Linked DNA regions of Homo sapiens: region 2 is linked to region 1. The links come from fine-mapping of genetic effects on gene expression. Tissue or cell type: whole blood. Region 1 holds a variant in brackets; the other region holds the start of a gene. All regions are shown on one strand. Distances are from middle to middle.

What was found. PIP is the estimated chance that this variant, and not a neighbour inherited with it, causes the effect.
Region 2: CCDC149 starts here. The variant in region 1 is fine-mapped to the expression of CCDC149 in whole blood (TOPMed, PIP 0.95).

Annotation. Positions count from the first base shown.
Region 1 is chr4:24,975,010-24,983,190 of GRCh38, forward strand. LOC102723675 (a long non-coding RNA gene) reads left to right here and starts at 4,809. Exons shown (of 6, transcript XR_007058082.1): 1 at 4,809-5,561. It also overlaps a transcript of CCDC149 not described here. The variant A/T (reference allele first, on the strand shown) is at 5,058.
Region 2 is chr4:24,909,251-24,917,431 of GRCh38, forward strand. It overlaps CCDC149 (coiled-coil domain containing 149), which reads right to left and starts at 3,792. Exons shown (of 13, transcript NM_001395273.1): 1 at 3,567-3,792. The coding sequence starts at 3,614. RefSeq lists enhancers at 7,589-8,158, 8,159-8,181.

The DNA of each region.
Region 1 (8,181 bases):
GTTTCCTTCTTTGTTAATGGGATTAAAGGTCTTATAAAATAGGCTTTGCGCAGCATTGCACTAGCTTGCTCTCTTGCCTTATGCCATGTGAGGTTGCAGCAAGACGCCCCTCATGAGATGCCAGCACCTTGATCTTGGACTTTCCAGCCTCCATAGCTATGAGAAATAAATTTCTGTTCTTTATTAATTACCCAATCTCAGGTATTCTATGATAACTATTCTGTTATAGCAGCACAAAACAGACTAAAACAGGAAGGGAAGGGAGGAAGACAAAACAGAAGATAGGAGAGAAAGGGAAAAGAAGGGAGGCAAGACAAAAGGAGAAGGGGGAAGGAGAGGGAGGGGAGGGGAGGAGAAGGCAGAGAAGAGGAGGGGATCTTGAGGGGAGGGGAGAGAATGTAAGAGGGGAGGGAAGGAGAAGGAAGGGGGAGGAGGGGGACAGGAGAGGGAGGGGAGGGGAAGAGAAGAAAGCGGGGAGGAGAGGGGACAGGAGAGGGAAAGGAAGGAAAAGTAGGATAGGGAAGGGAAGGAGAGAAAAGATGAAAGGAGAGGAGAGGGGAGGGGAAGAGAGGAGAGGGAAGGGGAGGAGAGAGGAAGCATACGTCCTGGGGAAGGAGCTCATTGATGGGGCTTGGGTCCATGCCCATCCCTGAACCAGTCACTGTGCACTATCACTAAGTCCCGTGTCCACCCCTGCAACCATGAAAGTAAACACAGTGTCAAGGGTGGTCCCCCAAAGAAAGGAGAAGTAACGGGTCCCAGGCAAGCAGAAACCACAGATGTCTTCTCTGCCAATCCCGCATCTGTCTTTGAATTTTGTAATTAGAAATGAGTTTTTTTTTCTGATCAGGCCCATCATTTAACTCAAGCCTGGTTGGGGGTCCTGGGAAGGGCAAAGTCTGTGTTCCAGTGTGGTCCATGCATACAAGGAAGAGAAAAGAAGAGAAAAGGAGGGTAGAGGAGGAGAGGGGACAGGAAAAAGAAGGAGAAGGGAGAGGGAAAAGAGGGGAAGGGAGGGAAGGAGAGGGAGGGGGGAAGGGAGGGAAGTGGAAAAGAGAGGAAAGATTTGGTGGCAATCATTTGAGCCCCGTGTTTAGCTGTGCCTACTTTAGATTTTTCAGTTATTTGAGCCAATAATTACCTTTTTCCTTAAATGAGTTTAATTCTTTTTAAGAGTACGTGGAGCTCAAAGAGATCCTTACTAATCTATCTGGGCCCCTTAGAGTAATTCCAGGGTCCATTTATCAAGGAAAGCAACATGGAGCACAGGCAGAGTCCCCCACTTGAGGCCATCTGCAGGTATCCTCCTTGCTTGGGCACTGTGTGGCCCTGGAACCAGGCCTGTGTCAGGGTGAAGGGCTGGAGAAGGTGGAAATGGGTATAGAGGTATCACCAGGACATTTATCCAAAGTGTGTCATCAGGCTGGGTGCGGTGGCTCATGTCTGTAATCTCAGCACTTTGGGAGGCTGAGGCTGGCGAATCGCCTGAGGTCAGGAGTTTGAGACCAGCCTGGCCAACATGGTGACACTCCATCTCTACCAAAAATACAAAAATTAGCTGGGCATGGTGGTGCATGCCTGTAGTCCCAGCTACTCAGGAGGCTGAGGCAGGAGAATTGCTTGAACCCAGGAGGCAGAGATTGCAGTGAGCCGAGATCGTGCCACTGCACTCCAGCCATCTGGGCAACAGAGCGAGACTGACTCCCTCTCAAAAAAACAAAAAACAAAAAGTGTGCCATCATCTGGCCTGCGCTGGTATAGTGTCCTTTCTGAAGGATGTTCCCAGAAGTGTTGTCAGGTGTGTGCAATGGACTCCAGCTCTGGAGCCAAGCGGGGATTTGGAAGCTATGTGCGATTGTGGAGAACATCTGGCCGCTAGAGGAGTGTGCATGGACCACACTAGAACACAGGCTCTGCGCTTCCCAGGATGCCTATCCAGGCTTGATTAAAGGATGGACCTGATCAGGAAAAAACAAACAAACAAACCTCATTTCTAATTACAAAATCCAAAGACAGGCATGCAGGATTGGCAGGGAAGACATCTGTGGTTTCTGCTTGCCCGGGATCCATTATTTCCCCTTTCTTTGGGGGACCACCCTTGATACTGTGTTGCTTTCATGGTTGCTGGGGTGGACATGGGACTTAGTGACGATGTACAATGACTGGTTCATGGATGGGCATGGACCCAAGCCCCATCAATGAGCTCCTTCCCCAGGACATTGGCTGGAGCTTTGGGAAAGAGGTATTCTTTTTCCATCGAGGACTCCAAGCTGGCAGGTTGGAGATCCTCTTAGCTATCTTGTGTGGAGATGCTGCCTAAGATCTACTAAGCACAGACAAAAGCAGAGCCATGCGTCAGGAAATATCCATTTCTCCCTTGATCCAGCCATTCCTGAAACCACGTGCATTCATTTTACAAACTAACATTTCACTCCCCAACACCTCTGTTATTTATAGTTAAGCCAGTTTGAATCAAGTCTCTGTCATTTGTGGCCAAACAAATCCTAATTAATATTATCTGTGAATCAACAAGCCTGTCTAGCTAATACCAGATGTTGAAGATGATAAAAAAGATGATGTCGTGGACCCAAATGAAATACCTAAGGTGTGGTAGAAGGCGCCCAGCACTGGAGTCCAGCTCTAGTCCCAGCCCTGCTACCCCTAAAGAGGATAAAATAGCTTAACCTCCCCTAAGGCATTACCAATACAGGGATGATAATACCACATAGGTCTGCCTGTTAGGAATATTGACCAGATGATAATATGCATGTGAAAGCATTTTGAAATTCAAAAGCTCAATACACACATAGTAACAAGGTATGCTATAAATCTATGCTACCTGGCTGGGCACAGTGGCTCATGCCTGTAATCCCAGCAGTTTAATAGGCCAAGGTAGGAGGATTGCTTGAGGTCAGGAGTTCAAGTCCAGCCTGGGTAACATAACCACAATCCCATCTCTACAAAAATAAAAAATTAACTGGACTTGATGGTGCACACCTTTAGTCCCAGCTACTCAGGAAACCGAGGCAGAAGGATTGCTTGAACCCAAGACTTTGGGGCTGCACTGACCTATATTTGCACCACTAACTCCAGCCTCAGTGACAGGGCAAGACCCTGTCTCAAAAATAAATAAATACATGAATAAATAAATCTGTGCTGTCCAACACAGTAGCTACTAACTACCTGCTGTTACTGAGCATGTAAAATGTGGCTAGTCTGAGCTGAAATGTGCTGTAAGTGTAAAACACACATCAGCTTTCACAGACTTGATTTTTTTAAATAATATAAATATCCTATTAATAATTTTTATATTAATTTCATATCGAAAGGATATTTGTGATCTACTGAGTTAAATAAAGTACATTGTTAAAGTTAATTTCATCTGTTTCTTTCCCCTCATTTAATGTAGACACCAGGAAATTGTAAGTTGCATGTGGTGGTTTGCATATGTGGTTCACATTCTATTTCTGTTGGCAGCACTTGTCTAAATTGTGAGGGATGGTTCGTTGTTGGCGTGGGAGGTCAGTGAATTCTGGAGGAGTCAGAAAAATCAGAAAAACCTCAGATGAAGAGACAAGGATGGGGGTAGGATGGCATTTGGAACCCATTCTCCATGGTTGTTGTCTCTAATTTTCCCTGTGAATAAAATGAACAGTCTTCCCTTTCCCCATCATTCCTCCCACCATTCGCCACCCACCGCCCACCAGAGAATGAGATGGTTTTAGCATCCTGTGTGCTTTTCACAGCTGAAATGCTGGCAATTTTGCCACAGATTCAGATCTACTCGGACTCACTGGTTTCCTTTGGTAAAATGCCCCATATCCAGAAGGGAAGTCTGCTGGCTTCTCTGACCTGGGCGTGTCTTTAGGATTTCTCAATAGGATGACATCTGTGGCTGGTTGTCCAACACTCATGGCTCCCTTCTGGAAGCGGTGCACTTTGTTCTTACCCTGAGTTACCCCGAAAAGGAGACCCTGAGAAGGACTGCATGCAAATGGTTTGGGGGCACAGGAATTGCAGGGAACACTTTGAGAGAGCAGGGAAGTGAGACAGGGAACAAATGGAAGCCAGTAAAGGGTGAATTAATGAGGCCACCATGGGGGACATGGATTCAGTGTCTTGGGAAATACCTTGAGAAATACTGTGCAGCATATCTCCTTACTGTCCCTGTGTAAGGAACCTGGGATATTTATTAACTAACTTTTATTCCTTAGTATTGAGGGTCAATCTTGGGGTGTTAACTTTCTGGTATTTCCAGCTTGGGTGTACACCACCAGGAACAGGGAATGCCCTCAGACAGAAAGATGCAGGCAATCTTTGAAGTATACAGGAAATGTCTGCAAGTGATCTTCAGGATAGGCTGCAGGGAAATGGTCAGAGCACAGACAGGGTCTGCTATACCTTAGAAGAAAGAGAGAAGACATGGAGAGAAGTGGGGTCCTTGGCAATAGTCCTGATCTACTGGATCAAGCCTTACTTGAAGCCTACCTCTAGACTTGTCATTACCTGCCCCTATATATTCCATATGCTATTTAAACTGGTTTGAGTTTTCTGTTATTCACAATGTAATGATTTCTAACTCAGTCTTTTCCTAACCTGGTTCCTACAATTGAGCAGATTCCCTGTGGTTTCAAAATCAGGAAACAGGGCTGATGGGTAAGTCATGTCATCATTTCCTTCCTGAAACCAGAGTGCAACGGAAAGAAAAGGAGGAGTTGCATGGGATGGTGGCCAAGTTCTCATTGTGACCCAGGGACCATTACAGTAAAAGGAACCTGCCTAGGGAACTTGCTCAGCTCTCTCTAAACACAGTCAGCTCCATGTTCCCAACTGAATGTCACGTCAATGCGTCGATGTTAATTCCGGTAAACTGAATCCACCCGAGAATCTTGTTGTGGAAGCAAAATCGGCTTAAAAGGCTTCTTTGATGCACAGGGAATTCTCACAAGCAATAAATTAAAAATAATCAACGAGTTATTTTATATAATCTGTATATAATATAAAGTAATTGTGTCCATAAATAACGAGGCAGTTAAACAGGAAAAGAAAGGATTTTT[A/T]CCTGACGTTCACATCGCTTCACAAGGTTTAGTGGATTCAGAAGGACATCTGGACTCCAGGAAAATTTAAGCGTAGCATTTTGAGACTTCCCTAAGGCCCCCTTCTCTAGTACGCAATCGCGGATTCACCAGCTTGAGTCAGTTGGCCTCAGTTTTGCTTTTGGAGGTTTAAGTCGGGTGGTGGGAAGAGATACATTTCCATTCCTGATATGGCCACAAGAGGGAGCTCCCAATGGTCGGCTGCACCTGAAAGTCCTGTCCGTGAAAACTGACAAAGAAAACTTGATTTAAAAGGCGTCTTCTGATAAACCTCAGCATCTCCTTACTAACATACTAAGAGCAATCACTGAACACTTTTCGTATGTTCAATGCGTCCTCGCGGGATCTGAGAAGCATTGTCCTATTAAATCTCAGTCGTCTGATTTTCAGCATCAATTTATCTTGGGAGCTGCTCCTGCATTTTATAAGGTGAATTCTACAGCAACGAGATTAAAGATTCAGAAAGTGAGTAAAGTTAACACTGAGCCCTTGGGCCTGGTAAATTGACAACGGAGCCAGAATAAGTATTTACCATTGTAAAGCTCTGATCCTCATGGCACAGTTGTTTCTGAAGAATGCTACCAGCACTTCCCTGCCCTGCATTTGTCTGGCTTTTTCCATTCATATTTGAATCGATTCTCTCTCTCTCTCTCTCTTTTTTTTTAATTATTATTATCATTTTCCAGGGACTTTGGGTCATTATAAGATTGCAGGTAATGACAGACTGTAATTAAGCCTAAAACAGATTTTTCTTTTAGGAGACAGAAGAATCCACTCTAGCTGAGACTCCAGATTGCCTGGGCTGTAATTTACGGTGCTATCACAAAGGGGTCCTTTTTCCGCATGGTGCTCTGCGGTGATGAGCCAGAAGCTGAAGCTGAGGGGTGTGTGACTCTCCCGCACACTCTCTGGAGTGAGCAGAATGGACGCTTAAATGGCTAAGTATAGCTTGAAACTGATTACAGGCCAGATCCCACTATTGTGCATCATCAGTTGTCATTGTTGAGACTGAAATTGCACTGGGATGTTTCTCTTTGTCACCGGCTCCAAGCTCATTTCTAGGACAGGAGTGAAACCGTATGGTGAGCCTCGGGCCCAAGCACAGGGAGAATTGTTCTTCTGGTGTGTCCCCCAAGGAAGAGCTTGGCAGGTCTTTGGCAGTGGAAGATGGGCTGGCTTCAGTCATGATACCTATAACATTGGTATTGCTAGGGCTTCCAGATTTATGGATAGTAAACTCTAATCTCTAGCAAAGAAGGTTGAAATTGTAGCTCTTCCTCAGTTGCTGTGTGAACTTAAGCAAGCAGCTTAACTTCTCTGGCCTTAGTTTTCTTATCTGTACAACAGAACTAATTATAGTTACTCTCTGATATGGTTTGGCTGTGTCCCCACTCAAATCTCATCTTGAACTGTAGCTCCTATGATTCCCACGTGTTGTGCGAGGGACCTGGTGGGAGATAATTGAATCAGGGGAGCAGGTCTTTCGTGTGCTGTTCTCATGATAGCGGACAGGTCTCACAAGATCTGATGGTTTTATAAAGGGGAGTTTCCCAACACAAGTTCTCTTGTCTGCTGCCATATAAGACGTGCCTTTCACCTCCCACCATGATTGTGAGGCCTCTCCAGCCACATGGAATTGTGAGTCCATTAAACCTCTTTTTTTGTAAATTGCCCAGTCTTGGGTACGTCTTTATCAGCAGTGTAAAAATGGACTAATACACTCTCCTATTCTCAAGGTAGATTTGCAGAGCAATGAAATGAGATATATGAAGACCCCAAGATATATATATATATATATATATATAGATAGATAGATAGATAGATAGATATTCACACACACACACATACACTCAGGCACTGTACACACACATGCACAAACATAATAGGCATAGAAGATATAGAAACTACCCATATGCCCATATGTATTATTATGGGTATGTGTGTGTGTGTGTGTGTGTGTGTGTGTGTGTGTGTGTGTGTGGTTTCTTGGTAAAAGCACTGGGGTAAGACTATGGAGCGTTCATATGCTAGGAGATGAAGTCTGGACCTGACTGCATAGTAACGATAATAATAATAATCTTGCATTCAGGGCTTATTGTGAGCCAGGCACTGTTCTAAGCTCTTTGCATGTATGAAAGCAGCGGTTTTCAATAGAAGCATTATCAGCATTCAGGCAGAACAATTCTTCATTGTCAGTGGGACTGTCCTAAGCCTTGTGTGATTACCAAAGGTCTCTCAAGACCCTCATCATCTCTGCTAACGAAAGGCAGCCCAACTCCCCTGCACTTTTAAAAACACCCAGCTGAGAACCAATTGCCTAAGTATAGATATGTACTCTCCAATATGGAAGCTACTGGCCACGGGTGGCTATGAATGGCTTGAAATGAAGTTAGTCTGAATTGGAGTGTGCTGCAAGTGGAAAAAAAACAAACACTGGATTTTGAAGATTTGGCATGAAAAAAATCGTATTAATATTTTAAAAGATTGATTACATGATGAGATGATAATATTTTGGATAGATTAGAGTAAATGAGGTATTTAAATTCATTTCACCTGATTCTTGTTGCTTTTTTCTTTTTTCTTTTTTTTTTTTTTGAGAGGGAGTCTCACTCTGTTGCCCAGGCTGGAGTGCAGTGGCGTGATCTCAGCTTACTGCAACCTCTGCCTCCCAGGTTCAAGCGATTCTCCTGCCTCAGCCTCCTGAGAGCTGGGATTACAGGCACCTGCCATCATGCCTGGCTAATTTTTGTATTTTTGTAGAGATGGGGGTTTCCCCATGTTGGCCAGGCTGGTCTTGAACTCCTGACCTCAGGTGATCCACCTGCCTTGGCCTCCCAAAGTGCTGGGATTACAGGCGTGAGCCACTGCACCCTGCCTCTTGTTGCTTTTTTGATGTGGCTACTAGAGAATGTTAAAGGACAGCCAGAGCTTGCATTTGTGGTTTGTGTTCTATTTTTATTAGACAGTGCTGGAATGGACAGTGGGATGCTGGCAAGGGCTTTTGAGCCAAAATGGTGTCAGAGTGACTGTGGGGGACACTGCTCGGCCAGCCCAGCCAATATTCGTTTCTGTTTCTTCTATACTA
Region 2 (8,181 bases), 66 kb before region 1:
GGGAGACAGCACCCAGGACTTCTGCAGAAATAAATGCAAGCCCACGAAAATCCCATGTAGTCCAGATTAGCTGTGCAGTGATGTCTTCCACAGGTCCTTCTGCCAGGTCCCCAAACCATTTCGTAACACCACAGCTGCTGAGCACACTCTTCCCTGAATCTTACCTGTCTGGTACCAGACCCAGTCACACCCATGGAACCCCTGCCAGCCAAACTTGACTGGGCAGGGGAATTACCTGGGCAGCTCAGCTTGTAAGAAAGGCAGATCAGGGGGCTGCAACCCCAGGCACTTTTCAGCAGTAGGTGTATTAGTTTCTTGTGGCTGCTTGATATGGTTTGGCTCTGTGTCCCCACTCAAATCTCACCTTGAATTGCATTCCCATAACTCCCACATGTTGTGGGAGGGACCTGGTGGGAGATAATTGAATCATGGGGCTAGTTTCCTCCATAATGTTCTCGTGATAGTGAATAAGTCTCACGAGATCTGATGGTTTTATAAAGAGGAGTTCTCCTGCAGAAGCTCTCTCTCTTTGCCTGCTGCCATCCATGTAAGATGTTACTTGCTCCTCCTTGCCTGCTGCCATCCATGTAAGATGTTACTTGCTCCTCCTTGCCTTCCAGCATGATTGTGAGGCCTCCCCAGTCATGTGGAACAGCAGGCCCATGAAATCTCTCTTTCTTTTGTAAATCACCCAGTCTCAGGTATGTCTTTATAAGCAGCATGAAAACGGACTAATACATTGCTGTAACAAATGATCATAAACGGGGTGGCTTAAAACAACAGGAGTGTATTCACTCACAGTTATAGAGGCCGGAAGTCCAAAAGCAAGGTGTCAACAGTTGTTTTTTTCTGGGGACTTTGAGGGAGAATCTGCCTCTTCCAGCTTCTGGGAGCTGCCAGCGACCTCTGGCATGCCTTGCCATGTGGCTGCATCACTCCAATCTCTACCTTTGTCTTCACATGGTCTTCCTTTCATGCATCTCCGTCTTCCCATAGCCTGCTCCCTTGTGTGTCTGTGGCTTAAATCTCTGTCCTTTCTCTTCTAAGGTATCAGTCATTAGATTTAGGACCTACCCTAAATCCAGGGTGATCTCATCTAAAGATCCTTAACTTGATCATATCTGCAAAGGCCCTATTTCCAAATAAAGTCACATTTGCAGCTACTGGGGTTAGGTCTCGGATGCAGCTATGGTGGGGAGGTGGGGGGAGCAGGATACATAATTCAACTCACTACAGTAAATTTGGGAGAGACCCATAAACTTGAATTTTTCACAGGCACCCAAAATGACTCTGATGCAGGTGATCTGTAGGCCATACTCTAAGAAACACCAAGCCATTTGCTGCGGACTCAAAGTTGAATCAGACATGGTCTCCTTCCTTGGGAAGCCTGCCATCTAGCAGAAGATACAGACAGATGAGCAATGATTAAAATAGCAAGTGTGGCCTAGCAAGGCTCAGACAAGCAAGGCTCAAGCAATGAGTCAGACAGACCAGGATTCAAATCCTGCCTCTTCCACTTACCAGATGTGAGGCTCTGTGCAAGTTCCTTAGCCTGTCTGAGCCACTGTTTCCTTATCTGTAAAATAAGAAAGAATTCCTACCTTATGTCATTGTGAATATGAGGCCATGTAAAATGCTTAATATGAAGGATGCACTCAAAAAATAGTCATTAGTTATTATTAAGGTGGGAAGTAAGTTAGACCCATTTTCACCTCCCCCATGGCCCCTGGCTACGTGCCCACCTCATGTTTGTGAAGTTAAGGAGGTATTACTCTGGAGAAACTCTGCTGGGATGGGCAGGAAAACTCCTGAAGGACCTACTTCAGGATTCACTGACTTATTCAACAAGCATTTTTCGAGCACCTGCTGCATACAGAGCTCTGTGTATAGGCCCTGGAATAAAGAACCAAACAAAGCACACGGCCTAGTGAGGAAGCCTATTGTTACAATAATGTGGTCAGGGCAAGGTGAAGGTTAAGCCCAGCCAACTGAGGGGCACCCCATGCCATTTAGCACTTGAAGCCTTTCCATCCTTTAGTTCACTCTCACTGTCTACGGTATGACCTTCCTCCCAGACTATATCATGAAACCCCCAGGAGTTCTTTGAGGGTAGGGGAGTTCTTTGTCTTATTCACCACTGAATCCCAAGCACCTCACAATGTACTGACTCCTAACAGGCACCTGATATGCAATTGTTGGAGTAGTGAAGATTCTGCTGCTATTTAAGGGCCTAACACTGGACTTCTAAGGAGAACTACCTCCAGCCTCCTTGACTACTAAGTATGATTCTTGATGGGACCAGAAACAAGGTCCCCAGAGGATCTGCCCCTTAACATAAAGCCTGACAGTTTGAGAAGATGGAGCCAGGCTGCAATACAATGGATCATAACACCAGACAGTTAGGAGAGCTTTCAACTACTAGACCAATGCTGAGCAAACTAAACTAGGGCAGGAGCTACCGCATGTCATTCCTCTTCAGAAACACAACGCTCTGCACACACTGGGCATGAAGCACTATTATCAGACTGACCTGGAGACCCAGAAAACGATGAAAGGAGTGAGGGAGTAGAGGGTTTCCCTTCCCATAACCCACAAGGAAAGGAAAAGAGCAAACCGATACACTCTGCATTGTGTGCACAGGATTAAAGAAAAGGAAGCCCCAAGTTGGCCTTGGCTGGAGCTTGGTTCTCAGAAGGGAGAAATTCCCCGGCATGGGTAAGTAACACCAGGAATTGCCCCCACAAATGGTGGCAAACCAGGGCAACTTACCTGGTTGCCTCCAGGTGAGAGGGAGAAATCCGCATTCCCTCTCACCTGGAGAGGCCGGCAGCTTCTCCCGGCAGGCCGGCAAACTCTTAGGGGGAACTGAAGAGCAAACAGCATAGGATCCTGAAAGTGGACCCCCAGGGTATGTTTATGACAAAAGAGTCGCAGGGCAGGGGGACACGGTGTTCTGTGCTTCCACAAATCGAATCACTTCTGCACCTGTGTTTCACTTTTTCGATAAATGCCCCTCCCCACCTTACACATGGTAGGCCTGCAGTAAACACGTGTTGATTGAATTGAGCAAGTGAATGAGTGAACGGCTGCAGCGGACCCCCGAACTCCCCCAACTCGAACCACCGCCGCAGGTAATTCCACCTGGCCCAGGTTCCACCCCAGGGCTCGGATTCTCCCCCATGGCACCACCTTCCCGTTTCAGTCCCAGGCGTCCAATTGTTTGGCTCCACAACAGTGGCGAGCGGGCAGGCAGGTGGGGCTTGGCACCTTCTGCTCCCGGATCCCAGGGCTTCAGCCTCCAATCCAGGGCCAACCCCTGCCTTGGGGGGAAGGCCCCTCCCCAAAGGCTGACACCAGATGGCGCGGAAGAAAGTGGCGCCCGCGCAGACCCGAAAGTGCAGGAGGAGCGGCGCACCTGGCGGGGTCGCGCGGGTGCGGCAGCCGCGGCCACTTGGAGTGCGCGCCCCCCTCTCGTCCCTCCCAGCTCGGCCTCTCTGGGGGCGCGGGCCCGGGGCTGGCGGCCGCTCGGCCCGGCCCATCCCGCCTGGCCGGCGCCGCGGCCTCACCTCGCTCACCAGCCCCTGCCAGTCGCTCTCAGTCCGGTCGCCGTTCATGGCCTCCTCCTCCATGCGCTGGCCGGCCTCCTGGACCCCCGCCGCCTCCTCCTCCTCGCGACGTCGCGTCGCCGCCGCCGCCCGGGCCCCGCGCGGCCCCGAGAGGGCCCGGCGCCTCCGAGCCGCTGCGCCGCCGCCTCTCGCGGCCGCCAGCGCTGTTGACTCCACGTCAGCCTCCGCCGGAGGGAAAGGGAGGAGGGGCGCGGCCGCCGGGGCCGCAGACACAGCCCGGGCCGCAGCCGAGCCCCGCCGGGCCCGCCCCGCGCCCTCAGCCCCGCGACCTCGGGCTCCGCGCCTCCTGCCCGGCCTCTAGGCAAGGGGAAGCCAGGGTCTCAGCCTACAGGTCACTCCGGACCCCTCAGCGCTCTCCGCGCGGGAGGCGGGCCCCACGGGCAGGCCTGTGTCCCCCGCAAGAAGCAAATCCCCAAATCCAGTCCTTCTCCGACCACCATCACGACTCCCACGCCTAGAATGCAAGCTCCCCGAGGGCAGGGGTTTCCTTGGTTCGCAGATGTGCCTTTGGCAAGATCCTGGCCCATAGGAGATGCTCTACATATATTTATTGGACGAATATTTGTTGAACGCAAGAATGAATGAACCACGTTTTATTATATACTTAGCATTGTTTTTTAAACTATTAGTGCTTGCTTATATATTTTTTAACGTATCATTTGTCATTAATAGAAAGCAAATGTAAAAATTGAAAATAAAGCATTATTCAATTCTAAATAGGGCCAAAAACTCTGAGGGAGATGGTTAGCATGGGTTGAGAGAGGTGTCAAAGACAAATTGGCACTGGTGGCATTCCATGGCTCATGCCTGTAATCCCAGCACCTTGGGAGGCTGAGGCAGGAGGATCCCTTGAGGACAGGAGTTCAAGAGCAGCCTCGGCCACAAAGTGACACACCCCCTCTTTACAAAAAATAAAATAATTAGCAAAAGGGGAAGGCATTGGCATTAAGCTGAGACTTCTCCTAAGAGGAAAGACTGAAAGAGAATGACAGAGGGAAGGTGAATCACACACATAAGTCAATCGTATTCAAGGTGCTGTTCCTGTGACACCTAAAATCCCCTCTTGGACCACTATCAATAGTGAGCCCTCTGTACTCGCAGAAACGCTGTGTGTGGAGATGAGCAAGTAGGTTGAGAAGTTGTGAACCCATTGTACAGTTGTGGAAGCATCATTACCAACATTTATTTATAATTTTTAGCCCCTGTTGATCCTGGATCAACCCTGTGAAATGGATGTTATCCTCATTTATTAGATGGGGAAACTGAGGCCTGAAACGTGGAGAAACAGGGACTCAACTAGGACTTCTGGCTCTAGCATCTTGGAAATCTAAGAATGAAGTATCACCTTGAAAGTTTGTTCTTGGCCTTGTTTTGCACATGATAGACTGTTTGCAAAATGGCAGCAATCATTCCCCTTCTTTGTCCCTTGCCCTGCCACTGTCTCTTTCACTCTGTGCTCAGTCATGTAACTTGCTTTGACCAAAGCAACGTTTGTACATGTGTTACCAGAAAAAAAAAAAAAAAAAAAGAAAAAAAAAGGCTTTTAAAGCAATTGTGCATTAGGATTTAACTCTTGCTTCTGCTCTTGGAAACCATGTAAATAAGCTCCGAATAGCTTGCTGGTTAAGGTAGGATTCCCAACCAACAGTCAACCATCACCAGATGTGTGAGTGAGGCCATTGCCTGCCGCCCCCTCCACGCCCCCCCACCCCCACCCGCACAGCTGATGACAAGCACATGAGTGAGCCCAGCTGAGACCAGCCGAAGAACCATCCAGCTGAGCCTTGCTCAACTAGCTGACTCACAGCATCACATACTAAATAAGTAGTTGTAGTTTAAGCCACTAAGTTTTAGGGCGATTTGCTAGGTATCAACAGGTAACTGAAATGGATGGTGACACAACTGATGAAGGGCCTGAATGGCTTGAACTCTCCCTGGCAGCCCTTCAAAAAGCAATAGTCCCTGGCATCATAATCTAAAGAAAATTTTACAACGGACTGGCTGGCCAGGAGCTAAGAAAAGGAACCAGTATACTAGTCAGCACATTGGTTTTCTGCCTGTTGTATACAACTGCAGCACTCATCCTGGGGAAGTTCAATAACATTGCACACCATGGTCCCTGTCCTAGGGGGCTTGCAAACTAAGGTGCTAGAGAACAGCAGAAAAAAAGGTGGGGCTAGAATGCAGCTAAAGCTTCTGGTCTTCTGACCATTCTGGGCTGCCTAACTCATTATCTTTTTAATCTAAGGAGCTAGAAAGAAGGTCATCCTTGAGCTGAATGTCTAGAGTTAATTAACTCAGTGCCAAGCACTTGTTCCTAAGCCTGACGTCTCATGCCTAAAAAGCAAGGTACTGTCTGCCAATATATTGCCCTCTGGCAAACCATCTGTTTTCATCCTGACCTGTGGATAAATAGACTGTAGGAAAAGTGGGCAGAACTTGGTCCATCTGCCTTTCAAGCCTCCTTGTCTGCACCTTGCTCTCTGCCTGCATTCAGGTGGGAAAGCCCATTCCAGTTTCCACAGTTAGCTGAGCCCTTCATGATATACCACTGCTCCTTTGGCGCCCTCACTGGTATTTCAGGCAGCAGGACAGACAATCAATGAGCGTTGGGAGCCAAGAAATCTTCGCATTCCAGACTATGTGCCTTTAAGACCACTCTCCCTGTGACTCCATTTCCCCTATTTGCTTTCCTTCTCCGAAATAAGTCAGACAGTTATTACGGTATTTAAAAATAAAGCTGGGGAGCAAAATCAAAGTGTGGCAAGCCTCTACCCTCCCCAGCATGTGGGGAGACTTTCAACTCGGTTGAAACAGCATCTCTAGCTGCCTGGGTTTTCCTTAGAGGTTTCATGCCCCAAGTGCCAGCTCAAACCTGCTTCGCTTGTGAGATGTGATGAAATCACAAACCAAGGCAATGTAGCTGCAAGCAATTCTTTTTTATCTCTTTTCATTTATGTAGCCTGACATTGAGTAATAATAATAATTAAATGCAGTTTAAGCTTTTAGGCACCTATACCAGAAGGCCTCTAGACACCTCATCAACAGCAGCCCAGACTGACAAAAAAGAGAGCTAATTATATTGTGGTTAACTTTTTTCAAAGAAGAAATAAACCCATACACCAACTATCTTTATCCCTGATAAAAGCAGTACATTAAATGTCCCATCCGACAGTCCATTTGCACAGGATCATTTTAAAACCTGGTGCCCTTGTCTTAAATGTGCCACCCTGTTACAAAGTATTGAGACGTTTGCTTTAGCCTCTATTTTCACATCCCCTTGGCTTTCTGAAAACTGATCTCTAGGGACCTAATTTTTCCATATATATTCATAGCCCCGGGACCAGTTTTATTGATTTATTTATGTGCACCTATAGTGTTAGAAGAAAGTACTTAGTTGCTTTTGAGTGATGCTTTTCACTTTTAAAAGTTTGAGAGGGTTTTAGACATGGAAACTCCAAAATAGCTTAATCTAAAAACTTGAGCCAGCACAGACTGATGAAAACAAACAAACAAAAAATCTCTGGAGAGATTGGGAAAGAAAGGATGATTTGAACTTATTGTTAGCAACCTAAGCTCTCATTATGGGTTCTATACTTACTTGCATGAAGACTCTGGCCAGGTCTCGGCAGCCCCAGACACGCGGGAAAGCCCTAAAGCTTTTGATGTGACTTCTCCAGACAGTATTTCAGTTCAAATTCTGGCTGCCCAAGCAAAATTCGGGCTGTTGGAGTTCTCATTAAAGGAAACTAAGCAAATCTCCAGTAGAGATTTTGGCCGGGCTTCTCTCTGAACTATATAGTTGGGGCAATATTCATGGCCATTTTTTTTCCCCAGTGACTTTTCTCCTGCCTCAATTAAGAAACTCAATCTGGGCAGAAAATGATTCATAATGACTGTGGTTTATAATGGTGTGTGTGTGTGTGTGTGTGTGTGTGTGTGTGTGTGTACATATATTTATTAATTAGCTCTATATGAGCCAGGAGGGCCATTTTGACAGGTCCTGCCAGGAGCCCCTATAGCCTGGCTGCTAAACTACTTCATTTGCTCTTGGTTTTAACCAGGATCAGGAGACTGCAGGTCCTGGTGAGTGCCACAGCCAGGCCTCCTGCAGAGGCCTGAGACCTGAGGTCCCCTGAACCACTGGCCTCAATTCTGTAGAAGATAAGCTTCTCTCTCCTCCCCCTACCTAGAGGTTCTCTGGGAAGGACCTCATCCATCATTTCCCTACAGAGGGCCAGCAGCCAGATACCAGAGGGGCAGATGGGGGATTCTGGCCGGGTTCCTGACTCAGGGAATCCTCTGTGTCTCTTAGACCCCTGAGCTCCCAGGTCCTCTCACGGCCACCCCTGCCAAGCCCTCCCTGCCCAGCGGCAAACAGTCAGCACGAGCTGCTCCCCTCCAGCCCCGCTGGCTGCCAATCAGCCAGGCAGCAGGGGGTGGAAGGAAGTTGCACTCCCTGCTGAACTGCCGCGCTCACAGTGGCTGAGTGGGGCTGATGACGGCCTGGCAGGCCGGGGACCCGCAGTTGTCATCCTAAGGGGGCACAGGCTTG